3 linked regions of the Homo sapiens genome follow. The protein of the gene in region 1 interacts with the protein of each later gene in a pairwise test. Each region holds a gene or a part of one and is shown in the gene's direction. Other genes may lie near its edges. The genes, in order: QDPR, ANKRD13A and PAH.

Region 1 (8,695 bases):
ACATTTTGCCAGTGTATAGGTAAGGAAGCTGAACCTCAGGCAATCCCATGGCCTGGATTTGAACCTGTGTCTCTGACCACTGAGCCCTGTGCTGTTTGTGTTAGACCTTGCTGTAGATAGGGACCTGGGGACCAGGAGGGAGGGCCTCCCTGAGTGTGGGGCTGCATGAGTTGAGCTCACCTTTTGGTTTCTTTCCTGGGAATGCTGAGCCCACATGTTTTTTTCACTCAGCTCTCTTTAAGAACTGTGACCTGATGTGGAAGCAGAGCATATGGACATCGACCATCTCCAGCCATCTGGCTACCAAGCATCTCAAGGAAGGAGGCCTCCTGACCTTGGCTGGCGCAAAGGCTGCCCTGGATGGGACTCCTGGTAAGCCTTTATTTCCCTATCTGTGGAGTGGGGTTGCTTACCTTGCTTGCTGGGGCTGCTGGGCACTTTCATGGGATGAGGACTGTTAAAGCCTTTACCCTCTAAGCTGCTTAACAGATAGATGGATTTTGTCTTCTTTTGGGCCTGAATCATTTTAGGGAGAAGAGTTCTGATCTTTTGTTTGCCTGTCCTTATGTTTATGGTGGTGGTAAGGAACGCTATGATCTGGTAACCCCCATTTAGTTTATTTATCTGTGATCTACACTGGAATGAATGGTTTAGTGGATATTAATTAATTAATAAACATGGATTATTATTATCACATTGAATCCATGTGTTCCAGGGAAGCAGCTTAGCAGCTGGAAATAGCATAAGTTTAAAATGAGAGAGGTTCATTTGGCCAGCACAGTGGCTCACACGTGTAATCCCAGCACTTTTGGGAGGCTGAAGCAGGAGGATTGCTTGAGCCCAGGAGTTCAAGACCAGCCTGGGCAACATAGTGAGACCCTATCTCTACATTAGAAAACAAAAAGAGAGTGAGAGGGTTGGGGGTGGATTCTTTATCCTAGATGTGTGACCCTGAACCAGTTCTTCAGTCTCTGACCAGATGTCTACTGTAGTTTCCTTAATTGTAAAATAGTGACAGTGACATCTAACTTGAAGAGTACTGTAAAACTGTAGAGGTGTAGCTATGTAGAAAGTGCACATGGTAGGCACCCATAAATGGCAAGTCTTACTGTTATTCACAATAAATGGTAGGTCTTATAGTCACTCTTTTCATTTCACATATATTCTCACTTTAATCTCATCAATATTATCTTTTTCAGTTTACAGGTTAGGAAACTAAAACTTGGAGAGTTAAGTAACTTGTCTGGGTTTGTGCAGGAAGTAAGTTGCAGACTTACTTGAACCAAAACCCTAATCATCTACCAACTGTGTATTTTTTCCATTATGTCATTTCTTTTGCATTTTTTATGACCTGTATTAGTTTGTTTGGGTAGCCACAGACTGGGTGGCCTAAACAACAGAGATTTATTTTCTCATAACTCTGGAGGCTAAAAGTCTGGAGATCAAGGTATCTGCAGGGCTGGCTCCTTCTGAATCCTCTTTTTTTATAGATGGCTGCCTTCTCCTTTTGTCTGCATGTGGTCTTCCCTCTGTGTGTCTGTCCTCGTTTCCTCCTCTTCTAAGGAAACCAGGCATATTGGACTAGGGCCCATCTCAATGGGCTCATTTTAACTTTGTTGCCTCTTTAAAGATCTTCGAATACAGTCCCATTCTGAGGTACTGGGAATTAGGACTTCAATATACGAATGTTGGGGGGATCTATTTCAGCCCATAACACTCCCTGTGGGATAGGGCTAAAGGAATTTAAGCAGGGGTAGAAAGGGGCAGCATAGGGAGGCAGAAAGTGTCTACCTCAACTACCTAAGTTGAACTCTTCTTTTAAAAAAATGGGAGCTTTTGGCCGGGTGCAGTGGCTCACACCTGTAATCCCAGAACTTTGGGAGGCCAAGGCGGGTGGATCATGAGGTGGAGATTGAGACCACCCTGGCTAACACGATGAAACCCTGTCCCTACTAAAAATACAAAAAATTAGCCAGGCGTGATGGTGGCTGAAGCAGGAGAATGGCGTGAACCCAGGAGGTGGAGCTTGCAGTGAGCCGAGATCGCGCCACTGCACTCCAGCCTGGGCAACAGAGCAAGACTCCCTCTCAAAAGAAAAAAAAAAAAGGTGGGGGGAGCTCTTTTTGACTCTCTTGTAAGTGGTAGAGACCTTGGGACCCTTCTCAGTTGTTTATTTTTTTAGAGACAGGGTCTCACCCAGGCTGGAATGTAGTGGTATGATCTAGCTCACTGTAGCTTGGAACTCCTGGGCTCAAGCAATCCTTTGCCTCGGCCTCCTGAGTAGCTGGGACTGCAGACACACACTGCCATGCCTGGCTAATTTTTGTATTTTTTGTAGAAGCAGGGTCTCGCTATGATGCCCAGGCTGGTCTCAAATTCCTGGCTTCAGGTGATGCTCCTGCCTTGGCCTCCCGGAGCACTGAGACTACTGGCATGAGCCACTACGCCAGGCCCCTTCTCAATTTTAATGTAACTCACTGAACTGTGAGGCTGTGACTACTAGCAATACCTTCCCTCTCATTTTCTTCTTCCATTTCTTAGAGCATGTGATGTTACAAGTCCATGGCTATAGCAATCATTAAAGCTGTGTAAATGTTAGCTGTCTGGTTGGTTGAGATCTGATTTTTATTTAAGATGACACGGAACAGAGGCAGTAGAAAGTAAACAGAGAAATGAGTCTTAGCTTGACATTTTAAAAAACAAAACCCTAGGACCAAAAGACTGATTTTTCTAAATGACAGAAGAGTCTCCTACTTTCCTTTGGTTTGCAGGTATCCTTTGATTACATTTTGGGTAGTGGTTAAGACTGCAGGCTCTGGAACTGTGCACGTTGGACTTCTCTTAAGGCTCTGCCACTTACTGTGACACGTTCGGCAAGTTACTTCGCCTTTCTGAGTCTGCGTTTTGTCATCTGTAAAATAAGATAAAATAGTGTCTCCTTTATATATATGGTGGTTGTACCTTGTAAATGTCTCAATGGATCTAAATGGATGAGAAAGGTATTACAGAGAGTCAATAGTAAGTGTGAGCCATTATTATTATTTACTCCAGGCTTATTTCTGCCCAGCTGTTCTGCCTCAGATGTTAATGAATTTGTTCATCTTTAACCTCTTAAGTTAGATTTTGTTAAGCTATTAATAATTTGAGTCATGAGATCTTTTAAGTATGCTGCAGACCTCAGAAAAATCTGGGGAAATAGATCTACAATTTGAAAGTAAATGATGAATCAGGCTTAGTAGTCCCTCAAACTCAAGAAGATTTGTTTGCACATCAGAAGTTTTTCACTTGGAAGGATACTGAGAAAACCTCACCCTCCTATTTCCAAGTTTGTATTTCTAGACTGTCTTCTGTAGGACAAACAGTATTAAAATGGTGTTCACTTTTGTTTACCATTAAAGGATCTGTGCTGTGATTGGAAATCAGTTTTGGGGGACCACACTGATCATTCAGTAATTTGGAAGTGTTGACCTTCTTAGTGAAATGTCTTTTTTTTCATATCTTGCAAATAACCCCTTTTGTGTCCCCAAGGAAAGGTCATTCTTTAGAATTAAGCCATTACGGTTGCTATTTGCTTGTTTCTTTCCTTTGTCAGAGTCCCTGCTCTTGTGTTGTGTTGTTCGAATGGAGTCAAGAGAGAGCTCTGGGATTTTGAGGACCAGGGCTGGGTTAATGAGCACTTATGCCCTGGTTTATTTTAATCACTGAAGAGTTTGTTATGCCCCCTGATTAAACAGAGAAGCTAAGGATGGCGAAATATTCTTCTTGTGCTTCCAAATAGCTCTTTGAGACCTTGACCCTCTTTTGCAATTTGAGGTAGTTGTTGAAGCAGTTTTGTGATTGGTCCCTTGGCTGGGCTGTCATCCCCCCACCTCCCGCTGGACTTGCGATGCCTCCACAGCAATTACATCTTAAACAGTGTGTGTGCCGAGGATTTTAGGGAGCCTGATGACCTCTAGAAGAAATAGTGGTTTTCAGAAGGTGGAGAAGTTTACAGTGACTCATCATTCCTTCTTGCTATCATTATTCTGTGATAGCAGCATTTAGTGAGCAGCTACAGTTGGGCACAGTGGGGGAACATAAAGAGGAAAGACTCCATTCCTGCCACATGCCTGCGGGGCAGAGGGAAACCTACCTTAATAAAAGACATCCCTTGCTTCTGTCAGCAAATATCCATCGAATAGTGGGAGGAAAGGAAGACCAATAGGTAGCAGGTATACACAATGTCAAAATTTGCTCAAATGGTACACCCTAAATGTGTTTAAGTTTATTGTGTTTCAGTTATACCTCAACAGACTTGGCGAAAAAGAAAGAAATATTTTTAGGCATCTGTCTTCTGGGTGCTTGGCTTGTTGGGCTAAGCTTGATCTTATTTCATCACCAGAGGTATCTGTAAAGTAGGTCCTATTATTTTCCCTTGATTATGGAGGAAAAAAAGTTCAGTGATTTTAGGTGCCTTGTCTAAGACAACCTAGCTAGTTAGTAGCAGATTGGTCTGAGTAATACATTGATCAGTAATTAATATATAATTATAATCAGTAATTATAGCAATTACTGATAATATAATTATATAGAGATAATATAATTATATTCAGAGCCTCCTCCGGCAGCAAGGGTGCGGGTGGTGTGAGTGTGAGACCGGGCTACATTACGGTCTAAGCGGAGTGCTCTTGGTGGGGGTGAGTCCACCTCTGAAAAGGTTTTGTTGAGGGAGCTGATTCAAACAGGGTCTTGGAAAAGGACTTGCTTTGACAAATAGAGCTTATGGGAAAAGACAAGGCACTGTATTAGTTTTTATTTAAATAATTTAATCAGTTTTTAAATTGGAAAACTAACCAATGCATGTAGTAAAAATTCACATGGCACTAAAAGAAACACAATGAATAGGAAGACTCTCTCCTACTCACACCGCTGATCTCTATGGCACTCCCTCCCAGGCCCAACTACAGTGATGGCTTCTCAGGTGTCCTTTGGGAAGCATTCTGTGCCCATTCTAGTGTGTGCCCATGTCACATTCACATACTTTTTAAAAAGCACCATAATTTGGCAGGGCGCGATGGCTCATGCCTGTAATCCCAGCACTTTGGGAGGCCACAGCGGGTGGTTCACCTGAGTTCGAGACCAGCCTGGCCAACATGGTCAAACCCCATCTCTACTAAAAAATACAAAAATAACCAGCTGTTGTGGCAGTCACCTGTAATCCCAGCTACTCAGGAGGCTGAGGCAGGAGAATCGCTTGAACCTGGGAGGCGGTGGTTGCAGTGAGCCGAGATTGCGCCACTGCACTCCAGTCTGGGTGACAGAGTGAGACTCTGTCTCCAAACAAACAAAAAAAGAGGCTGAGGTGGGAGGATTGCTTGAGCCCTGGAGGTGAAGGATGCAGTGAGCTGAGATTGCACCATTGCACTCTAGCCTGGGCAACAGAGTAAGCTTGTCTCAAAAAAAAAAAAAGAAAAGCACCATAATTTGATGACTCGATAGAGGCTTTTCCATGCCTTATTCTTTTCACTTCATCATAGATTAAATAATTTAAAAGTTAGTTTGTCTGGAATATTGAGAAACTCACGAGTTACTGAGAATCACCTACCATAGTTTTAATGAACAGAGCTACCAGTTTGTTCTTTTTTTTTTTTTTTTTTTTTTTTTTTTTTGAGACAGTTTTGCCCTTATTGCCCAGGCTGGAGTGCAATGGCGCAATCTTGGCTCACCGCAACGTCTGACTCCTGGTTCAAGCAATTCTGCTGCCTCAGCCTCTGGAGCAGCTGGGATTACAGGCATGCATCACCACCCCCAGCTAACTTTGTATTTTTAGTAGAGACGGAGTTTCCCCACGTTGGTCAGGCTGGTCTTGAACTTCTGACCTCAGGTGATCCACCTGCCTTGGCCTCCCAAAGTGCTGGGATTACAGGCGTGAGCCACCGCACCTGGCCCCAGTTTGTTTTTTCATTCCCACAGTTTTTGAGTGGCCACCATTTGATTAAGCCCCATTATCCTCCTTTGAGAAACCCACCTATTGCTCTTTTCTGAAAGCAGTGAATAAAGTATTTATTTATTTATTTATTTATTTATTTTCCTTTTTTTTGGAGATATGGTCTGGCTCTGTCACCCAGGCTGGAGTGCAGTGGCGTGATCTTGGCTCACTGCAGCCTCGACCTCCCGGGGGCTCCAGCCGTCTTTCCACCTCAGCCTACCGGGTAGCTGAGACTACAGGCGCTCGCCATCACACCTGGCTAATTTCTGTATTTTTTGTGGAGACAGGGTTTCACCATGTTGCCCAGGCTGGTTTCAAACTCCTGGGCTCAAGAGATCCACTTGCCGCAGCCTCCCAAAGTGCTAGGATTACAAGCCTGAACTACCTCACCTGGCCAAATAAAGTATTTATTGATTGCCACCTTTTGGTTTGGGATACATTGGTGAACAAAACAATAAAAATCCCTGCCTCTGTGGAACTTACATTCTTCTGGGAATGAAAGAGCCCTTTCGAGTTTATGAGATGTGTCACGTTTCATGTCGTTTTCAGGAAAGCCTATTTAGCTTAGCATTGGATCCCATTTAGCAGGGAAGAACCAGAGGCTGAAAGAGCTGCTCGCCCAAGTCACAGTGGTGAGGAATCACCTGGGTTCCAACCCCTGGCCTCGAAGTCCAGATTCTGGGTTCTTTCTGGTGTGCTGTGCCGTTCCTGGGAGCCAGGGAGCTGCCTTGTGCTTCTTCGTCTTTCTAACACTGAGCCTAGGGATTCCCACATAGAAGAGGCTCCATGACATGGGGTGGGGTAAGTGGGTTTTGATGCCCGGGAGCAGGCAGACCCTGGCAGCCCCTTTCCAGGCTCTGGCTTTACAGGCAGCAGAGTGATGGCAGGTTGGTTTGATGGTGTTAAGGCCAGAGTTGTCACCATCCCCGTCATGCCACAGTCCTTCCACTGCTGATAAGGAAGGAAATGCCCCGGATGGGCCGCAGATGACTGCTTGATCTGGAGAGGAATCATCTATGATAATATGAATAATGATGAGCTGGGAGAGTGGGAGAAGCATCACCCCCTCCCTGCCGCAGTCACTGGGAGAACATCTCCCTGGCAAGGTGCTGAGCAAAGCCCCTCCTACACCAGGCTGGGCTCCCTCCGCCCTGATCGGGTTCTGTGCGTGCCCTCCATGGTTTCCAAGGCCCTTGTTGGATGCAGTCTCCTTCCATCCTCAGCAGAGCCTTGTGAATAAATTGTGATCTGAGTTACCACTCCCACTGACAGATGGAAAAGCAGGCCCACAGAACCTGTGATTTTTTTTGGTGGCTGGAAAAACAGGAGTTAGGGCTGCACTTTTTGAATTCCAAGTTGATGACCCTTTTTGCAATTCCTTATTGCTGTCCGAGGAAAAAGAGTTGCCAGTGACCTGCTGAGAGTCATGAATGACAATAATGGCCAGGATTGAGTGTTCCTCTGTGCTCAGTACTGTACAAAGGGGATTTGTTAACCTGGAAAAAAAACAATCAATGGAGTTTTATTACTTGACATAATTAAGGAGGATGCTGGAAGTATTCTCCAAAGCAGCGTCTCTCCCAGGAGGGTTTCATGGGGTGATGGAGAGGGGAAAGGGTGTGTCATTGCATGTGGAGGAGGGGTCCCAGTGGCACAGATGCAGTGAGTCATCACGCCAGCACATAGTCACATGTTCTGGTGATGAAGCTGTAGCTCCTCCCGGGTGGAGACTGTAGCATGGTAATGAGGAAAGTCCACTTGGGATCATCTCTATAAGTTGCTGGTTTCACCTGACTTGGTGACTGCATTCCATGCAAGTTGTGGGAAAAACCAGGCTGAAGGGCAGGAGCCTGTGAAACAGGCTGATTGTTCAAGCTGATGAAACTCCTATAGTCCTTGGAGACCCTCCCTGTCTGCTACACTTGTACATGGTATTTTATTTGATTGTTGTATTATCCTTAGGATTTGGGATTGTCATTCCCATTTCACGAAATGGGAAACTGAGGATTCCAAGGTTTAGTAGCCTCTCCCAGTGTCAGTCACTAGCAAGCAGCAGAGCCTGGACACGAAGCCAGGTAGTCGGGTTCCAGGGCACATTACTTCTATTGATTTGATGGGAAACCTTCATTGAGTGCCTGTCCTGTGCTAAGGGTATGCTCACAATTAAGTACTCTATTCCTGTGTGTCGTTATGAGCCCCTCTGGATCACACCTGAGTTTATACTGATAAGGTGATTAGTAGGTTGGGGCCCCTAGACAGCCTCAGGATGGAGCTACTTCTTAGAATGACCAAGCAATTAGGAGGTTAGAACTTTCAGCTCCACCTACCGACCTCCTGGAAGGAAGCAGGGGCTGGAGATTAAGCTCTATAAAAACTTACAGATGTGATAAGCATCTGGGTTGAACACATGGAGGGCACTGGGAGGGTGGCGTGGCTGGAGCAGGCGTGGAAGTTCCATGCCCACCCCCTCTCCTACCCTGCCTCTGTGTCATTCCACCTGGCTGTTCCTGAGTTGTATCCTTTATAATAAACCAGTAACTATAAAAAAAGCGTTTGCCTGAGTTCTTCGAGCCATTCTAGCAAATTATTGCACCTGAAGAGGGGGTTGTGCAAACCCCTGATTAAGCTTGTTGGTCAGAAGTCTAAGTGGCCCAGGACTTGTGACTGCCATCTGAAGTAGGGTAGGTCTTGTGAGACTGAGCCCTTAAATCAGACGGGAGTACAGTG
Region 2 (10,704 bases), on another chromosome or scaffold:
CAGCTACTGGGGAGGCTGAGGCAGGAGAATCGCTTGAACCCCAGAGGTGGAGGTTGCTGTGAGCCAAGATTGTCCCACTGCACTCCAGCCTGGGTGACAGAGCTAGACTCTGTCTCAAAAAAAAGAAAAAGGAAAGAAAATTTCCTTAGTCTGACTCATTCTTGGAGGTGTTTCCCCATAGTTGGCCTCAGCTGTAATTAAAGCTATTCGTGAGGGCTTGTTTATGTGTTATCAAGAACAATTGTTGAATTCAGCCAAAAAAGGAGATAAGGACATTTGAGAATATTTATCATTGGAATGAGTGATTTAGTCCAAACTATTGTGATGAAAGATTTAGACAGAACTTGGGGTCCAAGCAAAAACATTGCATGTGGTTGCCACATCCCAGCCCCATCCCAGCCCCACCAGTTCTATGGCCTTGTGAAATTACTTCTGCTCTGTGCCTTAGTTCCTCAGCAGTGAAATGCAGGTGATACCCAACCTTCCTTAGAGTTATTGAGAGGATTAGATGAGTTACGACGTGGAAGCCTTTAGAATGGCGCCTGCAGTATGTGGTAAGCATGCAGTAATTGTTCACCAGCACCACCACCACCATTGCCATTACTCCACTTTGACAGATGAGGGAACTGAGGCCCAGAACACATGGGTAGCGAGTGGCCAAGGTGGGGTTGGAATCCAGGTCTGGCTCACTCCAAAATCCAGACTCTTCCCATTATTCTGCTTTAATTCTTACAACTGTTTATCTAGTTTAGAGATCCTCATGAAAAGCACCCTATAAAGGATAAATTAGTTTATGGTTATTGTGAATGATTTGATCAGCCAGTCTGTAATTGCATTTCCTAATGAGGTAGCTTGGACCAGAAACTTTAATGAAGATCTTTTTTTTATAGCCACAAGTGAGATATAATATTAGACTTTAAACTCCCTACCCCTCTGTAGCAGACAGGAACCCGCTGGAATCTTTGCTGGGAACTGTGGAACACCAATTTGGTGCACAAGGGGTAAGTTGAAGCAATGAGCTTTCATTGCAGTTAGATGAAAGGAAACAACTTGTCTGTGTCTGGGATGGCATTTACTGGATCCTGAACAGCCCACTCTATGTAAAGGCCAAAGATACCCCCAAGCTGGAATTTGAGATACTCTTTTGGAAGAGAATTAGATGAGTGACTCTTTGAAAATAAATAAGGATTTTAGAGGAGGGGTAGTGATTATAGAAATCAGGTGCTTTCCCTCTTATCCATTATAAACGAGGGGCCTCTTTATAGAAATGGAACTTAAAAAGGATTCAGGACTTTATATTGCAACAGAGCACCTTAACAAATATTTTCTTACTTGATGCTCACAGTAACTATATGAACTTGGTACAGTGGATGTCCCTGCGGGTCAGAAAAATGAAATTACCTTTCCACTATCAAAGCTAGACAGGGAAACAGCTAGAACTTCAACTCCAAGTCTTCCAAGTCTCATGCACTTTCAGATATTTCTTTCTTTTTTTCTTTGTTATAATCAGGAGATAAAAATGTAAAGGAGAGTAGAGAAATATTTTAAAATGAAGAAATCCATTACACTTCCTGTGTAGTTTGGTGATATCCTCATAGATTTTCTTGTTCCATGCAAAAAAGTTAGTGAATAGAACTTCCCGGTCTTTAGCTGGTTAACACGTCCACCTCAGACACTGAGTGCCACAGGCCTTCACTTGTGAACATCATTTGGCATTTCTGACTCTCCTGAGTTCTGGCTCAGCAGGACCTCACCACGGAATGTGCTACTGCAAACAACCCCACAGCCATCACGCCTGATGAGTACTTCAATGAAGAGTTTGATCTGAAAGACAGGGACATTGGAAGGCCGAAAGAGCTGACGATTAGAACACAGAAGTAAGAGAGGTTCAGCTGCCATTTTCAACCTATGTATGTTTCAGAAATTGTGCTGTTTTATGGTGTTATGTTGGATCATTCCACTGCCCTCCCCACCACCCTTATTTTTTTTTCAGACGGAGTCTCGCTCTGTCGCCTAGGCTGGAGTGCAGTGGCACGAACTCGGCTCACTGCAACCTCTGCCTCCCAGGTTCAAGCGGTTCTCCTGCCTCAGCCTCCTGAGTAGCTGGGACTACAGGCGCGTGCCACCACGCCCAGCTAATTTTTGTATTTTTAGTAGAGATAGGGTTTCACCATATTGGTCAGGCTGGTCTCGAACTCCTGACCTTGTGATCCGCCCGCCTGGGCCTCCCAAACTGCTGGGATTACAGGCATGAGCCACTGCGCCCAGCCTCCTCTGCCCCTTTTTATAAAAAATAATTTTAAAATTACTTTGCCATGAAAGCTAACAGTAGATTGTCCATGTTATTAGCTCCTTTCCAAATAGAATCTAGATTGGATGTAAGAATTCCTTTTTTTTTTTATTGCTAACCAGCTTCAGCTGATCAAATTCAAATGAAACTGTTCCACCCGCTATCATTTCTTCATGCTTGCTGTCAATTAAGGCTTTGATCGTGGCAGGTTGTCATGCAGGTCGCTTGCCTTTATTGCCAGATTTTAGGGTGATGTGAATTCCTTGTGGCCCTAGACATTTGACCTTTAATAGGTCTGAATTAAGAGATGACTGGGCAGAGTGTGGAGTAAAGCTGCTGTTGTCTAGCCTACTGCATAGCAATAATCTCCTTTTCCCATCTGGTGGAGATGACCTCAGTCTTTTCTTGGTTGAATTCTGCAGGTTTAAAGCAATGTTGTGGATGTGTGAAGAGTTTCCCCTCTCTCTGGTGGAGCAGGTCATTCCCATCATTGACCTAATGGCTCGAACGAGTGCTCATTTTGCAAGACTGAGAGATTTCATCAAATTGGAATTCCCACCTGGATTTCCTGTCAAAATAGGTACTGCTAAATAAACTTCAGCAACACTTGGAGGTTCTGCCCATGTTTGTGGGTGGCAGCATGTGGGTGGCAGGATGCTTCAGGGAATTGGAGTGCTTTAGGTCAAAGTAGCTTATAGACATAACAGAGGAGGTCAGAGTTCTCCTGTGGTTTGATTTAAAGAAGTGTTATGATTAGTGGTTCATTTTGTGTATCAAAGTCAAGAGATCTCCAACCATCATTTCTATTTGCAAATGGTGCTGACAGATATAAAAAGGCATAAAAACATGACACAGTCATTGTTTTAATGTCAAACCTTAATTCAGTGAGACTTCAAATTAGATAATTATTTGAGGAAGACAGTTGACACCAAGATCCTTTGATATGTAAATATGATCTACGTCCCAAGCTAGTATGCATAATGCTATATATGTATATATCATACATACTACTCATGAAGAGTATTAATTTTGGATAGTTGTATGTTCATGATACTTGAACCCTGGCTTGATCACTTACTCACTGTGATCTAGGAGAAAATACATAACTCATTTTCTCTTTTTTTTTTTTGAGATGGAGTCTCGCTCTGTTGCCCAGGCTGGAATGAAGTGGCATGATCTTGGCTCACTGCAACCTCTGCCTCCTGGGTTCAAGCGATTTTCCTGCCTCAGCCTCCTAAGTAGCTGGGATTATAGGCATGCATCACCACGCCCAGCTAATTTTTGTATTTTTAGTAGAGATGGGGTTTTATCATGTTGGTTAGGCTGGTCTCGAACTCCTGACCTCAGGTGATCAGCTCGCCTTGGCCTCCCAAAGTGCTGGGATTACAGGTGTAAGCCACCGCGCCTGACCGAAAATACACAACTCTCAATCTCAGTTTTCCCGTCTGTGTATTGGGAAGGGTTGTTATGAGGCTTAAATAAAATTATACTTATCAAAGTACTTGGCATAGTAAGCACTTAGTAAATGATAACTATTATTGTTATTCTCAGTAAAGTTTACTTATAAAAGTTTTTATTTTGTTTGTTAGAAATTCCCTTGTTTCATGTCTTAAATGCACGGATTACATTTGGAAATGTTAATGGCTGTAGCACTGCCGAAGAATCTGTATCTCAAAATGTGGAAGGGACCCAGGCTGATTCAGGTAAAAAAATAAATAAATACAAAGTTTAGTTTTGTTATTTAAAAAAAAATTTATGGCCGGACGTGGTGGCTTATGCCTGTAATCCCAGCACTTTGGGAGGCCGAGGTGGGTGGATCACCTGAGGTCGGGAGTTTGAGACCAGCCTGACCAACATGGAGAAACCCTGTCTCTACTAATAATACAAAAATTAGCCGGGTGTGGTGGCGCATGCCTGTAATCCCAGCTACTCGAGAGGCTGAGGCAGGAGAATCGCTTGAACTGGGGGAGAGGCGGGGGGATGGAGGTTGCTGTGAGCCGAGATTGTACCATTGCACTCCAGCCTGGGCAACAAGAGCAAAACTACATCTCAAAAAAAAAAAATTATAATTCAGTCATCATATTCATAATTCACTCTGAAGCTGGAATATCTGAGGGAGTAGATGTCTGTGTTGGATGAAAGAAAATTTCAGATTTAGTTTAGATTAAGCAAAAAAAAACTTGTAGAATATATATGATCCTAGTTATATTAAAAAGAAAGGATGTTCTTAAAAATCAGCTTTATTGAGGTGTAATGTACATACAATAAAATGCTCTCATTTTAAGTGTGATGGTTCAGTGCATTTTTTTTTTTTTTCTCAGAGTCTCACTCTGTCACCTAGGCTGGCATGCAGTGGCACAATCTCTGCTCACTGCAGCCTCTGCCTCCCAGGCTCAAGCGATTTTCTTGCCTAGTCTCCCAAGTAGCTGGGAATACAGGTGCGTGCCACCATGCCTGGCTGATTTTTGTATTTTTATTAGAGACTGGGTTTCACCATGTTGGCTAGGCTGGTCTGGAACTCCTGACCTCAAGTGATCCACCCAGCTCGGCCTCCCAAAGTGCTAGTGTGAGCCACCATACCCAGCCACATTTTGACAAATGTATGCATCTGTGTAACCACCACCATAGTCAAGGTAGACAGCATTTCCATATGCCCCCAAATTTCCTTACACTCCTTTGCCATCAATACAATTCATGATTTTAGATGCAATTGTAAATGGACTTATTTTCTTAATTTCATTTCCAGTTACTAGTATATAGAAATATAATTGAGTTTTGTATTTTGACCTTGAATCGTTTTTAAAAATTTTTTATCTTTTTTTTTTCTTACACAATTGCATGGCCAGGATTGACCTTGTTTATCTTGTAACATGGCTGAATTTACTTGTCTTACACTTTTTTGTAGATTTCTTAGAATTTCTTACATATATGGTCATGTTGTCTATTAATAAAGAAAATTTTACTTTTTCCTTTCTAATCTTTAAGCTTTTCATTTCTTTTTCTTGACTTACTGGACTGGCTAGGACATCTAGTACAATGTTGAGTAAGAGTGGTAGGAATGGCTGTCCTTGTCTTGTTCCTGGTTCTAGGGGAGGAAGGATTGTTGTGCCATTAGGTATGATGTTAGCTGTGTAGGTTTTTTATAAATGTCCCTTATTAGTTGGAGGACATTATTCTCTTATATTTCTAGTTTGCTGAGAGTTATTACCATTTTTAAGTATTGATTTTTGTGAGATGTGTTTTCTGCAACTATCATGATGGTCCTATGTTTCTCCCCTGTAGTCTACCAGTAGGAGGAATTAAAAGATAGCATTTTAATGTATATAAATTAAGACTTCAAATAAAAACAATTGAACTCGACAATAATATACACCTTTACATTCCCATGTAGCAACAAAGTTGGGTGAGATGTGTTCATGAGGTTGTGCAGCTAAGGAACACTCGTGCACTCTTGGCTGGAAGAGGAGATTGGTATAGTTCCTTGAATAAAACATTCGGCATTACTGTATAAACTGAAGATGTGGATGACCTAGCAATTCCTAGATGTGTACCCTAAAGAAAGTTATGCACATGAGCATCTGGAGACCCCAGTACTGGGCAGCAGCATCCATTCATAACAGCAGAAACCTGGAAACGACCCAAATGTCCCGAGATGGTAGAATGCGCTATTGTGCTCTATTAATACAACAGAATAACATATAGTATTGAAAATAAAAATTTATAGCTATGTGCGTCAAAACTGTTGAATTTCAAAAGCATAATGTTGAATGAAGAAAATCCAATTTGAAGAATAAATTCCGCATGATTCCATTTATGTCGAGTTCACAAACAGGCTAATACAAACTATTAGGATGATATACATGTGGCAAGCTCCAGAGAAGAGCTAGGCAGTGTAAACAACTATTCTGAATTATGTATTTACCTCTGGAGAGGAAGAAGGGAATATTGTTAACAAGGGATGTGCCCGCAGTATGGTATTGATAGTGTTTTTTTCTTTTTCTTTTTTTTTTTTTTTTTTGAGACAGTCTTACTCTGTCACCCAGGCTGGAGTGCAGTGGTGCGATCTTGGCTCACTGCAAGCTCCGCCTCCCGGGTTCATGCCATTCTCCTGCCTCAGCCTCCCGAGTAGCTGGGACTACAGGTGCCCGCCACCACGCCCGGCTAATTTTTTTTTTTTTTTGTATTTTTAGTAGAGACGGGGTTTCACCATGTTAGCCAAGATGGTCTCGATCTCCTGACCTTGTGATCTGCCTGCCTCAGCCTCCCAAAGTGCTGGGACTACAGGCGTGAGCCACCGCGCCCGGCAGTTATTGATAGTGTTCTGTGTCTTAGGCTAGGTGAAGGGCACACAGGCATTTGTTTAATTATTATCATTTTTAAGTGTTCAGATATTTTATATATACTTTTATATATTTACCATATATCTTCCTGCAAAAGGAAGAAACACATTGGTGTGACTGTGCGTATATGTTTAGGGGGAGAAATCTGCGCTTTTCATTTTATAGTCTTGTGTATTTTTTTATGACTGTGTTCGTTGTTTCCACTAAAATCAAGGAAAAAGAAAAAAGCTGTATTCTGTCACTTTTTTCTGTCATGCTTCCTCAGAATCTCTCATATAATAGTAAGCCTTGATTGTTATAATTTTGAGCCTTTCTTTTTTTTCTAATGTACAACATTTTTGCAAAAAGTTGGAGTGGAAATGTAATGAACTCAGACACTGGACGGTTGCCTTTTGTTTCAGCTTCCCACATCACAAACTTTGAGGTTGATCAATCTGTGTTTGAAATTCCCGAATCTTACTATGTTCAAGACAATGGCAGAAATGTGCATTTGCAAGATGAAGATTACGAGATAATGCAGTTTGCCATCCAGCAAAGTCTGCTGGAGTCCAGCAGGAGCCAGGTGTGTTTATCAGAATACTCTAATGGCAGGGCGTGGGAGGTCTTACCCTCTGGGTTAGCCTCAGTGTTTGGCTAATCTGAAAGATTTATTCTAAATATCAAGTTTGACACATTCATGGTATTTGCATAGGTTATACTTTGTGCATCTGGTCTTCTTACAAAAGCTTGTTATGTAAGAGACCATCTACATAATCCCAGTCAGCACCATTCACAAGATGTCTTCAGGCAGACTTTCCTTTTCCTCATATTCACGCACATAGCTTGTAATTCTGTACTTTTTGAGATGTGCTTCATCATTTTCTAGCACTGAAGCAGTATCATATTTTTCCTGAAGGATTACCTGTGTGTCAGTAGTCTCGGATGAAGGTAGTGAAGTGGATTTGAATCCCACTTCCTCCACAAAGGGTACCATCTCCCTAAACTCTCTCTGGGTCTCTAGTGAAACAGAAAATGAAGGACAGGACAGACCTGTGTAAGCAGTAGGCTTTGTGTGTGTGTGTGTGACTCTATGTTGCCCAAGTCGGAGTGCAGTGGCTGTTCCCCGGCATGATCATATTGCACCCTCAAACTCCTGGGTTCAAGAGATCCTCCCACCTCAGCCTCCCAAGTAGCTGGGACTAAAGTCATGCACCACTGTGCCCAGTAGAACAGTTGCCTTTTATTGTCATATCTGGTTCTCCCTCCATGCCTCACCTACCTGGGACAGTCCAAGGCTTGAGGTCCTCCTCCCCTAACATCAACTCCTTCCATCTCCTTCCTTCTGTGCCTCCTGGCTCTACTAGGGTAGGGTCTGGTCTGCCTCCAGCACCCTCTGGTGTGTCCTGGGTTCCTGCAGTCCATTTATTTGTTAATTGGCTTTTTCTTCCATTCTTCATTCAGATATTTGCAGAGTACCTTCTTTGTGCCAGGCTCTGTGCCAGGTGCTGGGAATTCTCTGGGAAGCAGCCCCTGCCCTCACAGGGCTGCTGCTTTGAGAACAGTGCTCACACTCCAGCGTCCTCACTGGTTCAAGCTTATAGCTTTCTGGTTCTATTCCTGAGTCTTAGTGCTTGTGTAATGTGAGTCTACCTCCTCCACTTCCCCCTGCCACCACCATGGCCCCATTCCCAGACCCATTCAGTTTTCCGAGCCAGACCCCAAAGCAAGCATGTTCCCTTTGGGAGGCATCCTGGGAGAAGACCCCTGCACATCACCATCAGCCTGGTATGCTTTTCCTTTCCCTATGTAAGTGAGCTTAGCTCCCCCCGCCAGCTCCCAAGTAGCTTCATAAACCTTGTTGACCATAAGTTTTAACAAGGGAAGTAGCCAAAGTCAAAGACTACCAGTATTGAATTGTGTCTTCTAATCTTGCCCTAGAAGAATTACTGGCTGGGTGCAGTGGCTCATGCCTATAATCCCAGCACTTTGGGAAGCCAAGATGGGAGGACTGATTGAGCCCAGGAGTCTGAGACCAGCCTGGGCAACATAGTGAGATCCTATATCTACCAAATTTTTTTTTTTTTTTAATTTTTGAGGCAGAGTCTCACTCTTTTGCTCAGGCTGCAGTGCAGGGGCACAATATTGGCTCACTGCAGCCTCTGCCTCCCAGGTTCAAGTGATTCTCATGCCTCACCCTCCCGAGTAGCTGGGATTACAGGTGCGCACCACCAGACCCAGCTAGTTTTTGTGTTTTTAGTAGAGACGGGGTTTTACCATGTTGTCCAGGCTGATCCCAAACTCCAGACCTCAAGTGATCCACCAGCCTTGCCCTCCCAAAGTGCTGGGATTAGAGGTGTGAGCCACCATGCCTAGCCTCTACCAAAAAATTTTAAAAGCCAAGTATGGTGGTGTGCACCTGTATTCCCAACTAGTCAGGAGGCTTAGGTGGGAGGATTTCTTGTGCCCTGGGGTCAAGGCTGCAGTGAGCTACGATCACATCACTACCCTTGAGCCTGGACAACAGAGTGCGACCCTGTCTCTAAAAAAACAAAAACCTGCTTTGGTCACTTGAACTTTGCCCAAGGTCAGCTGTGTTTTTGCTTTTCGTTGTGTATATCTTCCACGTGGGTTAGCTGTATTTAAGAGACTGATTTTGTACAAAGGATGAGAAGGTTGTGGCTGTGAGTTAGGCTGTGGCATGTTACTACCTCCCACTTAGGTGTTGTTTTTGAGGTAACCCAAGTCCCTGTTAGCTTTTCACACAGCACTATTGATAATGGTCATGGAAAGACTTTTAATTTGGTTCTTGCTGCCATCGTTTCCTTACCAGAATGGCACCAATTTCTCCTAAGACGTATTCATGTCTATCACATTTGTCTTTGCCAGGAACTTTCAGGACCAGCTTCGAATGGAGGGATCAGCCAGACAAACACCTATGACGCCCAGTATGAGAGGTGATTGACTGACGTGACTCTGGAATAAACCAGGGTGAACACAGGCCTGGACACAGGCGAGCAGACGCGTGGCACTGTGCATTTGGTCCTCAGGCAGATGTACGGTGCCACAAACTGGCAGGAAAGACTAGAAAAAGTAGGCCAGGAGCGGTGGCTCACGCCTATAATCCCAGCATTTTGGGAGGCCGAGGCAGGCGGATCACGAGGTCAGAAGATTGAGACCATCCTGGCTAACACGGTGAAACCCTGTCTCTCCTAAAAAAAATACAAAAAATTAGCCGGGCATGGTGCCAGGCACCTGTAGTCTCAGCTACTCGGGAGGCTGAGGCAGGAGAATGGCAAACCCAGGAGGCGGAGCTTGCAGTGAGCCGAGATCGCGCCACTGCACTCCAGCCTGGGCGATAGAGCGAGACTCCGTCTCAAAAAAAAAAAAGACTAAAGTGTTGGCTCTCTTGCTTCCTCTTGTGGCAGTTACTTATAATAACTCTAGACTCTTGATAGCAAGTTTCCAGGAATGGGTGATAGAATTGCTGACTGGTTCACAGGTCAGTGCCATTGGGGGAAACGTACTGAGTCAGTTTTTTCTGATTGGTTTGATCTTCTATGAATGATGTATGATCACAGGGCCTAGATGTCCTCAGTGGGAAGTTTATATAATTGTAAAGATAAGGAAGTTTGGAGGAACAGCTCCAGAGATTACGGGAAAAACCGCGAGGATTCATTTTACGAAGACTTATACTTAAGGTGTCTATGAGAGCCTGTTGATGAAGAACCTGAGTTTTGCTTTAAAACAGATCCAAGTTCAATTCCCAGCCCTATCACTTACTGGTTGGGTGGTCTTGGGCAAGATTGTGGGGTTTCTCACCCGTATACAACACCTACACCGCCAGTTATGTGGGATTAATTGGCATCATGCATATTAAATGCCTGGCACAGTGTGCCCTTGGTAAGCGGTTAAGAAATGTAGTTACTGCTGCCACCATGATGATGATAGTAGTGACTCTCCCTTTTTATCTGTTTTCCAACCCAGGGCCATCCAGGAGAGCCTCCTCACCAGCACAGAAGGCCTGTGCCCCAGCGCCCTGAGCGAGACAAGCCGTTTTGATAATGACTTGCAGCTAGCCATGGAGCTCTCTGCCAA
Region 3 (10,704 bases), on another chromosome or scaffold:
TTGGGCAGTATGGCCATTTTCACGACATTGATTCTTCCTGTCCATGAGCATGGAATGTTCTTCCATTTGTCTGTGTTCTCTTTTATTTCTTTGAACAGTGGTTCAACTACAAGTTCTCCTTGAAGAGGTCCTTCACATCCCTTGTAAGTTGGATTCCTAGGTATTTTATTCTCTTTGAAGCAATTGTGAATGGGAGTTCCCTCATGATTTGGCTCTCTGTTTGTCTGTTATTGGTGTATAAGAATGCTTGTGATTTTTGCACATTGATTTTGTATCCTGAGACTTTGCTGAAGTTGATTATCAGCTTAAGGAGATTTTGGGCTGAGACAATGGGGTTTTCTAAATATACAATCATGTCATCTGCAAACAGGGACAATTTGATTTCCTCTTTTCCTAATTGAATACCGTTTATTTCTTTCTGCTGCCCGATTGCCCTGACCAGAACTTCCAACACTATGTTGAATAGGAGTAGTGAGAGAGGGCATCCCTGTCTTGTGCCAGGTTTCAAAGGGAAGGGAATGCTTCCAGCTTTTGCCCATTCAGTATGATATTGGCTGTGGGTTTGTCATAAATAGCTCTTATTATTTTGAGATACATCCCATCAATACCTAATTTATTGAGAGTTTTTAGCATGAAAGGCTGTTGAATTTTGTCAAAGGCCTTCTCTGCATCTATTGAGATAATCATGTGGTTTTTGTCTTTGGTTCTGTTTATATGCTGGATTACATTTATTGATTTGTGTATGTTGAACCAGCCTTGCATCCCAGGGATGAAGCCCACTTGATCGTGGTGGATAAGCTTTTTGATGTGCTGCTGGATTCGGTTTGCCAGTATTTTATTGAGGATTTTTGCATTGATGTTCATCAGGGATATTGGTCTGAAATTCTCTTTTTTGTTGTGTCTCTGCCAGGCTTTGGTATCAGGATGATGCTGGCCTCATAAAATGAGTTAGGGAGGATTCCCTCTTTTTCTATTGATTGGAATAGTTTCAGAAGGAATGGTACCAGCTCCTCCTTGTACCTCTGGTAGAATTCGGCTATGAATCCATCTGGTCCTGTACTTTTTTTGGTGGGTAGGCTATTAATTATTGCCTCAATTTCAGAGCCTGTTATTGGTCTATTCAGGGATTCAACTTCTTCCTGGTTTAGTCTTGGGAGGGTGTATGTGTCCAGGAATTTATCTATTTCTTCTAGATTTTCTAGTTTATTTGCATAGAGGTGTTTATAGTATTCTTGATGGTAGTTTGTATTTCTGTGGGATCGGTGGTGATATCCCCTTTATCATTTTTTATTGTGTCTATTTAATTTTTCTCTCTTTTCTTCTTTATTAGTCTTGCTAGCAGTCTATCAATTTTGTCGATCTTTTCAAAAAAACCAGCTCCTGGATTCATTGATTTTTTGAAGGTTTTTTTGTGTCTCTATCTCCTTCAGTTCTGCTCTGATCTCAGTTATTTCTTGCCTTCTGCTGGCTTTTGAATGTGTTTGTTCTTGCTTCTCTAGTTCTTTCCATTGTGATGTTAGTGTATCAGTTTTAAATCTTTCCTGCTTTCTCTTGTGGGCATTTAGTGCTATAAATTTCCCTCTACACACTGCCTTAAATGTGTCCCAGAGATTCTGGTATGTTGTGTCTTTGTTCTCATTGGTTTCAAAGAACGTCTTTATCTCTGCCTTCATTTCGTTATGTACCCAGGAGTCATTCAGGAGCAGGTTCTTCAGTTTCCATGTAGTTGAGTGGTTTTGAGTGAGTTTCTTAATCCTGAGCTCTAGTTTGATTGCACTGTGGTCTGAGAGACAGTTTGTTATATTTTCTGTTCTTTCACATTTGCTGAGGAGTGCTTTACTTCCAACTATGTGGTCAATTTTGGAATGAGTGCAATGTGGTGAGAAGAATGTATATTCTGTTGATTTGGAGTGGAGAGTTCTGTAGATGTCTGTTAGGTCCGCTTGGTGCAGAGCTGAGTTCAATTCCTGGACATCCTTGTTAACTTTCTTTCTTGTTGATCTGTCTAATGTTGACAGTGGGGTGTTAAACGCTCTCATTACTATTGTGTGGGAGTCTAAGTCTCTTTGTAGGTCTCTAACGACTTGCTTTATGAATCTGGGTGCTCCTGTATTGGGTGCATATACATTTAGGATAGTTAGCTCTTCTTGTTGAATTGATCCCTTTACCATTGTGTAGTGACCTTCTTTGTCTCTTTTTATCATTGTTGGTTTAAAGTCTGTTTTATCAGAGACTAGGATTGCAACCCCTGCCTTTTTTCATTTTCCATTTGCTTGATAGATCTTCCTCCATCCCTTTATTTTGGGCCTATGTGTGTCTCTGCACGTGAGATGGGTCTCCTGAATACAGCACACTGATACGTCTTGACTCTTTATCCAATTTGCCAGTCTGTGTCTTTTAATTGGAGCATTTAGCCCCATTTACATTTAAGGTTAATATTGTTATGTGTGAATTTGATCCTGTCATTATGATGTTAGCTGGTTATTTTGCTCGTTAGTTGATGCAGTTTCTTCCCGGAATCAATGGTCTTTACAATTTGGCATGTTTTTGCAGTGGCTGGTACCAGTTGTTCCTTTCCATGTTTAGTGCTTCCTTCAGGAGCTCTTGTAGGGCAGGCATGGTGGTGACAAAATCTCTCAGCATTTGCTTGTCTGTAAAGGATTTTATTTCTCCTTCACTTATGAAGCTTAGTTTGTCTGGATATGAAATTCTGAGTTGAAATTCCTTTTCTTTAAGAATGTTGAATATTGGCCCCCACTCTCTTCTGGCTGGTAGAGTTTCTGCCGAGAGATCAGCTGTTAGTCTGATGGGCTTCCCTTTGTGGGTAACCTGACCTTTCTCTCTGGCTGCCCTTAACATTTTTTTCCTTCATTTCAACTTTGGCGAATCTGACAATTATGTGTCTTGGAGTTGCTCTTCTCGAGGAGTATCTTTGTGGCATTCTCTGTATTTCCTGAATTTGAATGTTGGCCTGCCTTGCTAGGTTGGGGAAGTTCTCCTGGATAGTATCCTTCAGAGTGTTTTCCAACTTGGTTCCATTCTCCCCGTCACTTTCAGGTACACCGATCAGATGTAGATTTGGTCTTTTCACATAGTACCATATTTCTTGGAGGCTTTGTTCATTTCTTTTTACTCTTTTTTCTCTAAACTTCTCACTTCATTTCATTCATTTGATCTTCAATCACTGATACCCTTTCTTCCAGTTGGTTGAATCAGCTACTGAAGCTTGTGCATTTGTCACGTAGTTCTCGTGCCATGGTTTTCAGCTCCATCAGGTCATTTAAGGACTTCTCTACATTGTTTATTCTAGTTAGCCATTCATCTAATCTTTTTTCAAGGTTTTTAGCTTCTTTGCAATGGGTTCGAACTTCCTCCTTTAGCTCAGAGAAGTTTTATCGTCTGAAGCCTTCTTCTCTCATCAAAGTCATTCTCTGTCCAGCTTTGTTCCATTGCTGGCGAGGAGCTGTGTTCCTTTGGACGGGGAGAGGTGCTCTGATTTTTAGAATTTTCAGCTTTTCTGCTCTGTTTTTTCCCCATCTTTGTGGTTTTATCTACCTTTGGTCTTTGATGATGGTGACACACAGATGGGGTTTTGGTGTGGATGTCCTTTTTGTTTGTTAGTTTTCCTTCTAACAGTCAGGACCCTCAGCTGCAGATCTGTTGGAGTTGGCTGGAGGTCCACTCCAGACCCTGTTTGCCTGGGTGTCAGCAGCGGAGGCTGCAGAACAGCAAATATTTCTGAACACCAAATGTTGCTGCCTGATCATTCCTCTGGAAGCTTTGTCTCAGAGGGGTACCCGGCCGTGTGCGGTGTCAGTCTGCCCCTGCTGGGGGGTGCCTCCCAGTTAGGCTACTCGGGGGTCAGGGACTCACTTGAGAAGGCAGTCTGTACGTTCTCAGATCTCAAACTCCATGCTGGGAGAACCACTACTCTCTTCAAAGCTGTCAGACAGGGACATTTAAGTCTGCAGAGGTTTCTGCTGCCTTTTGTTTGGCTATGCACTGCCCCCAGAGGTGGAGTCTACAGAGGCAGGCAGGCCTCCTTGAGCTGTGGTGGGCTCCACCCAGTTTGAGCTTCCCGGACTTTTAAAACTAACGACTTTTAAACTATAGTTTGCATCAGAGTCACCTGGGGAGCTTACTAGAATCCAGATATGTGAGCCTTCCCTTCCCCAAGAGATTCAGGATCTATGCGGCCTGGCATATGTACTTGAACAAGCTCAGTGAAGAGAAGGTATGAGGCATTTTATACCTTAGCATGGATTTATATATTTATTTTCTCTCCTTTGTTCCAATATTTATTTATTATCCTTGATCTAGAACTTATTTATTTAGTTTTCTAATTGACAAATAAAAATTGTATATAATTTTTAATTATATACAATTATATAATTGTATATAATTATATAATTGTATATAAAATATGGTGTACAACATGATGTTTTGATATATGTATACAATGTGGAATCTTAATTAGTATGTATTTAAATACCTTTATAACTTCCCAGGAGCAGAAATATCAAACCCAATAAGTGCATGCCTACCAAACAAAGGGGATCTCAGATTCGTGGCCTACATATTAAATCCAGTTTAGCCCACTGGTTTAATTGCTTTAGCTAACACCATAAAAATACACTGTGTTGCTTTAACTTAGATGCCCTGGTTTAGAAAGGGAATATATTCTCCTGCCAGCCCCCATTCTCCTTATTGCCAATCTCTGCAACTTTACAGCTTTGTGATACCTGACTGGCCCGTGCAGGTAAGTGAATTTCTACCCCAGGTAAGCAATTAGAGAATTAGAAGAGTAGAAAAACCAAGTGATTTCCCGAAAGTGAGAGCAAATCCTCATTGTAGCCTGTATCACTGCTTAACCAAATCACCCTTTCATGTGGGAAATCAAAACAACAATGTTTCCTATATCAAGATGTGGAATTTTTCTCTTTCAAATAATGTATGAAATTCACTGTAGCAAGTGATGGCAGCTCACAGGTTCTGGTCCCCGACTCCCTCTGCTAACCTAACCTGCGTTCTGCTGTGCCCCTGCCCTGCTTGAGACACCTATTTTGTGCCTGTATTCTAGTGGGCAGCCCATCCCTCGAGTGGAATACATGGAGGAAGAAAAGAAAACATGGGGCACAGTGTTCAAGACTCTGAAGTCCTTGTATAAAACCCATGCTTGCTATGAGTACAATCACATTTTTCCACTTCTTGAAAAGTACTGTGGCTTCCATGAAGATAACATTCCCCAGCTGGAAGACGTTTCTCAGTTCCTGCAGAGTAAGTCCACATCAGGGTCAATGGCCCTGCAGAAAGTTGGGGGAGGATTGAGGCAGAGGAGAGGGAAGGGGAAGACAAGTATGTGGAGGCAAGTATGAAAGCATGTGCTTGTAGGAATGCATGCAGGTTGATTCCTCCAGGAAGAACTAAATTTCACTGTGCTCTGCCTTCCCTCCAGCCCCTACTGTGTTTATCCACTTTCATTCAATCAAACACCTGAGGCTGTGGATTTTGCCGTGTACCTGTCCCTGAAAAGTATTTTCTTTCACACTTAAAGCCCAAGGTGCTTCACTGAGGTTTTTTTTTGTTTTGTTTTGTTTTGTTTGCCCTGTAGTTCCTGCTGTGTTATGAGTTAGGAGTGTGTGTTTGTGTAAGAAATGTGCTATTTTCGGGGATGGTGCCAAGAGCCCTGAGCTCTGAGTCTGTGCATCTGGTATGAATCCTGCCTTCAATCCTCTCCAGCTGAGTAAACCTGCCTCAGTTTTGTCATCTGTCAAATGGACACTGTATCAACTCTTTAGCTTTTCCCATAGGGAAATTATGAGAATGAAGTAAGGTGCTGCATATGGAAACAACCAGCACAGTCTTGCATATACAGCAGGTATTCAGTGAATTTGGACTGAATTGAAATCTGAGTAGCTTAATAGGTAAGTACATTGAGTCGCAAGCCTCTCTGTACAGTATATCCAGGTGAAATGGGTGTTACTCTTTCTGTCAAGAGGATGTTAATTTAGCAAAAACAAAATAATGAACTAGCACATATTGAACACCTACTGTGTGCCAGGTAGAATAAGCAGAAGTGGGGAGACAGACTACAGGTTACAAAATTTTCTATATATCAGAGCTGTGCAGAGATGGGCCACTGTGGGGGCAATGAGCCAGGGAAATTACTTGGCAGGAAGGGAAGTTGTAGCCAGGACAGTTTGGGGGTGAGTTAGATGACCTTTTGGGTCCCTTCCATTAGAAAGTCTTTGCTTCTTAGATAAAGAAGGGAGTAAGGGTCCAAGCAGAGTGTGCTTCAGCCTGAAGACACAGAGAACATGGGGGCAAGAGGCAAGGGGATCTCAAAGACTTCTTTAGCTAATTACTTCCATTGCCATGGCCAATAATAAGAATAATAAAACAGTAATACTAGCAGTTGGGAAGCTACATAATAGTAATTAAGAGAACAGACTTTGAAGCTAGACTGCCTGTGGCTGTGACCTTGAATAAAACCTTTAACCTATCTCTGTCTCAGCTTTCCCATCGGTAAAGTGGGCATAATAAAAGTGTCTACTTCATAGGGCTATTGTGGGGATTAGTAGCATATCTAAAGTAGCTTAAAACAGTGTCTTACATACAGTAGGTCAAATATAGTGTTAGCTATTATTACCATTATCACTGTCACTATCCTTATCCTCCAAAGTTTGCAACAAACTGAGAGACAGATACAGGAACCATAGAGATGGTGATCAGAGGTCAGCTTTAAAATTGAGCGATTTAGAGAATGTGATATAGATATGCACACAAATGGACTTGCTAATATTTTACCCCTTAATTAGGTAAACTTACCTGCCAATTCATAGAGCATAGTCCATTGCATGGCCAAGAGCAGACTGGAATGAGGTCCTCTGTGAACAATCAAGAGAGAAAGAGCAGTACAGAAAGAGTTAAATTGACAATATTCATATTCTCTTCCCAAATGCTCCAGTCAGACAGGTCACTGCTACTTATGGGGTAGACTGTGTGAGGTGCAGTACAGAAGCTGGAAGCACTCTATCCATACTCTTCCCTTCTGGGAAATGAGGTTCAAATTCCCTCTTCACTCTAGAAGCAGGAGAAGTAGGGAATCATTGTTCCACCCTAACAAATGGTAATGAAAGCTAAATTTATTGCATGTTTCCAATGTGCTAGGCTCTGTGCTAAGTACTTTGTATTCATTAGCTCTTTTTATTCTTGGAACATTTCTAAGAAGTATCTATCCACATTATGCAGATGAGGAAACTGAGGCTCAGAAATGGGAATTTACTTGATCCAGATCACCTAGCTAGAAAGCAGCGAGGCAGACATCTGAAGCCAAGTCTGCCTAGCGTCAAAGCCTATGTCCCTGGGCAGTTATGTGTACTACTCCACTACCTAAAGGTCTCCTAGTGCCTCTGACTCAGTGGTGATGAGCTTTGAGTTTTCTTTCTTCTTTTCATCCCAGCTTGCACTGGTTTCCGCCTCCGACCTGTGGCTGGCCTGCTTTCCTCTCGGGATTTCTTGGGTGGCCTGGCCTTCCGAGTCTTCCACTGCACACAGTACATCAGACATGGATCCAAGCCCATGTATACCCCCGAACCGTGAGTACTGTCCTCCAGCTACCAGTTGCCAGGCACAATGAGCGCCATCTTTTCCTGCTGCAAGAATGAGGTTTGGGTTCATTGCTGGCTGGTCCACAGGACTAGTTGTCTAGACTGTTTGCTGGTAGTACTAAAAACAATTCATCTATTCTGGAGATTTGCTCCATCCAAGTAGATAGACCAGACTGATTGGAGATTTGGTCATCCTGTGATCCAATAACTCAGAACTCCCTTGGCAGTGAGAATGAGAGATCCCAATCAAGTTCCAAAGTCAAAGCTACGAAGTTGCAAATGAGAACAGGAACAAGTGGCAGCCAAGCTATCTCAATACTTCCTAAGTATACATCTAGATTACTCTTATCTTTCTTTGCCTAGATTGTGTATTGGGTAGAGGTAGAGAATTGCAGCCATTATGCTTCTTACTTGGGTGTTTCGTTATCCCCTTAGTCTGATAAAACTTATGCAACTTATAAAAAAATTAATGGAACATCCAAAATTGTTTTTCCTTGCCCATAAAGTTCATTGCTACAAATCCAAAAAGACCTGTTCCAAATGGACATAGCACATACAGTGTTAAATAAATGTAGGTTTTCTTCCCTCACTGCTGTCCACCTCCAGACTAACAGAAGAGCAGCACTGTTTTTGTTTTAGTTCCCAGTGGAATAGCTGAGCATATTGTATCTGCCCAGGGAAGTCAATACCAGGGAGAAGACAGGATGAGAAGTGTTCATGACTCATAGCTCACTTAGGTATATGGGAGCATGTCCACAGGAATATTAGCTCTTCTGCCTGGTACCCCACTGGGGATACTCTTAAGACCCTTGGCTGCTGTGCCCTACCCTGCACCTGTCTCTTATTTTTCCTTCCTTTTCTTCTTTTTACCTTGTACCCTGCCTTTTATGATCCCAACCTCTGCATATCACTTATTCCTGGGAGAGGGATCATAAGCCTAAAAGAGTTATTTCCATTCTTTCTGCCCATTCCTCATGTAGAAAGACTGAGTCTGGCTTGGCTTAAACCTCCTCCCCTCCGAGCTCTCTGTGCTTTCTGTCTTTCAGTGACATCTGCCATGAGCTGTTGGGACATGTGCCCTTGTTTTCAGATCGCAGCTTTGCCCAGTTTTCCCAGGTAAGGAATGGATTTTTTAGCCTTCTAGTTATAGGTCTGTGACCTGAATTTCTCAAATGAGTTGAGCCCAGGGAGGGGTCCTCATGCCCTCTGCAAGAGCGGAAACCAGGTACAGTTCTATGATCCCACCTGAAATGGGTGTGTGGTTCTGGGAAGCTAAATACCCATTTCGGAGATCAAGCATGGGGTTGGTGAATCACTCATCCTCTGAATCATATGTGTGTTCTTCAGTGTACTAATCTCATTTTTCCTGCTAGAGCCTTTCATCCATGAAAGCCTCCCTGATTCCCATGCAGGAACTACCTCACCTTCTTCCAATCTCTTAGTACATTCCCCTTACCTTTTCAGGGCTGTTGCAACTTTCTACCTTGTCAGGCAGTTATTTGTGTATATGCTTGAATTAAGTGAGGTGACATTTGCCAAGAATCCAATGCTGATACCCTGACTTAGAGTTAACAAAGAAAAAAATGAGCTGAATATCTTATCACCATCATCAAAGCTGCAACCCTGCAACCTAGAATTTCATTCATCTTTCACAGTGGTTAACAAGCTCAAAAAAAAGCTTTCTTTTTCTTTTTCTTTCTTTTTTTTTTCTTTTAAGGCAAGGTCTCACTCTGTCACCCAGGCTGGACTGGAGTGCAGTGGTATAATCACGGTTCACTGCAGCCTCAGACTTCTGGGCTCAAACAATCCTCCCACCTCAGCCTCCTGAGTGGCTGGGACTACAAGCACATACTTTCATGCCTGGCTGAATGTTTTAATTTTTGTGGAGACAGAGTCTCACTACATTGCTGAGGCTGACCTCAAACTCTTGGCCTCAATCCTCCCATCTCACCCTCCCAAAGTGCTAAGATTACAGGCAAGAGCCACCACACCTGGCCAAAAAAGAAAGTTTTGGGCTGAGTAAAATAATGCTACCAATTCTCTCCAGGCACTGAGAGGCAGCCTAAAACCATGGTTTGGTAGCTGGGATCATGAGAAGGTTGAATGGTGTTCTGATGTACCTAGGCTCCAACCCTGCCACTAACCAGCTGTGTGACCTGGGGTTACATTATCAGCCACCCTGTGCCTCAGTTTTAATAAAAGTGGATCAGTCAAAAGCCCTCTCCACCAGTCATCTTCCTCACAAAGAAGCACAAGAATCAAATGGAATGACCTATGAGCAAATGCTGAGCCAAGTATTGGGATTTCAGAATAATGGGATTGTGTGTGAATTTAATGGGCATTTTCCCTCAGCTGGCAGAAATAAACATTCCCACTGTCAAATAAAGAAGCTACCACTAAATATTTGAAACAAACAAACAAAAAAGTGGAATTTATTGCTTGCTAAGTGAGGGAAAACTGTACTTGTAAGATGCAGCCTCTCTAAACAAAAGGAAAATTACTTTTATGTGAGGTTTGGGGAATTATGGAGTTCAAAGATCGTTGGACTTTTGGAAGTGGAAGTGTTTCGGGATTAGTTGAACTTTAACTGTAGAAGCATCACCAATGACATTCAGAAGTGTGGTTACTGCTGCCAAGATATCTTTGATTGCTTGGGACAGTTTTAAAATCTGGATTTGTTACTGTGGCCAAAAAACAATCAGATTTTTCCTTGAAGAATAGGAACCTTTTATTCTTACCACCAGAAGTTAGTTTACGAAGTCAGAGGCTAAGTGGCAGTCCTCCTTAAGCCATTTCCACTTTGGGGAACCCCACAGAAGAGTGGACAGTTGCTCAAGTCAACAAACAGGAGCTCTTGGGGCATCAGTGTCACATGGTTCCAACTTTGATCTGGACAGTTCCAAGGCAGCAAGTCATGTTGAAAGTTTCCTGAGAACATTCCTTTTTGATCAGAGGCAGGACTTGCTTCCCACTACAGTACAGGATGGAGTGGGGCTGGAGCACAGGGAATGTGGGGCCCCCCTTGTTGTAGGCAAACTCTAGGCTCACAAAGAATGGTGACTAAGAGAACAAGGCGCCATTTTGGTCTTGGATT

The links.
Region 2: the proteins of QDPR (region 1) and ANKRD13A interact in a two-hybrid assay, tested with the Homo sapiens proteins (2 studies listed by BioGRID).
Region 3: the proteins of QDPR (region 1) and PAH interact in a two-hybrid assay, tested with the Homo sapiens proteins (one study listed by BioGRID).

Annotation. Positions count from the first base shown.
Region 1 is NC_000004.12:17,493,396-17,502,090, reverse strand, and holds part of QDPR (dihydropteridine reductase), read left to right. Parts: intron 1-231; coding exon 232-372; intron 373-8,695. UniProt on the Homo sapiens protein: Catalyzes the conversion of quinonoid dihydrobiopterin into tetrahydrobiopterin.
Region 2 is NC_000012.12:110,026,766-110,037,469, forward strand, and holds part of ANKRD13A (ankyrin repeat domain-containing protein 13A), read left to right. Parts: intron 1-939; coding exon 940-1,001; intron 1,002-1,743; coding exon of another isoform or gene 1,744-1,746; coding exon 1,747-1,877; intron 1,878-2,712; coding exon 2,713-2,870; intron 2,871-3,879; coding exon 3,880-3,993; intron 3,994-5,681; exon of another isoform or gene 5,682-5,945; intron 5,946-7,031; coding exon 7,032-7,192; intron 7,193-9,495; coding exon 9,496-9,563; intron 9,564-10,593; coding exon 10,594-10,704. UniProt on the Homo sapiens protein: Ubiquitin-binding protein that specifically recognizes and binds 'Lys-63'-linked ubiquitin. Does not bind 'Lys-48'-linked ubiquitin.
Region 3 is NC_000012.12:102,849,709-102,860,412, reverse strand, and holds part of PAH (phenylalanine-4-hydroxylase), read left to right. Parts: intron 1-5,080; coding exon 5,081-5,277; intron 5,278-5,611; coding exon of another isoform or gene 5,612-5,628; exon of another isoform or gene 5,629-6,585; intron 6,586-7,462; coding exon 7,463-7,598; intron 7,599-8,656; coding exon 8,657-8,726; intron 8,727-10,704. UniProt on the Homo sapiens protein: Catalyzes the hydroxylation of L-phenylalanine to L-tyrosine.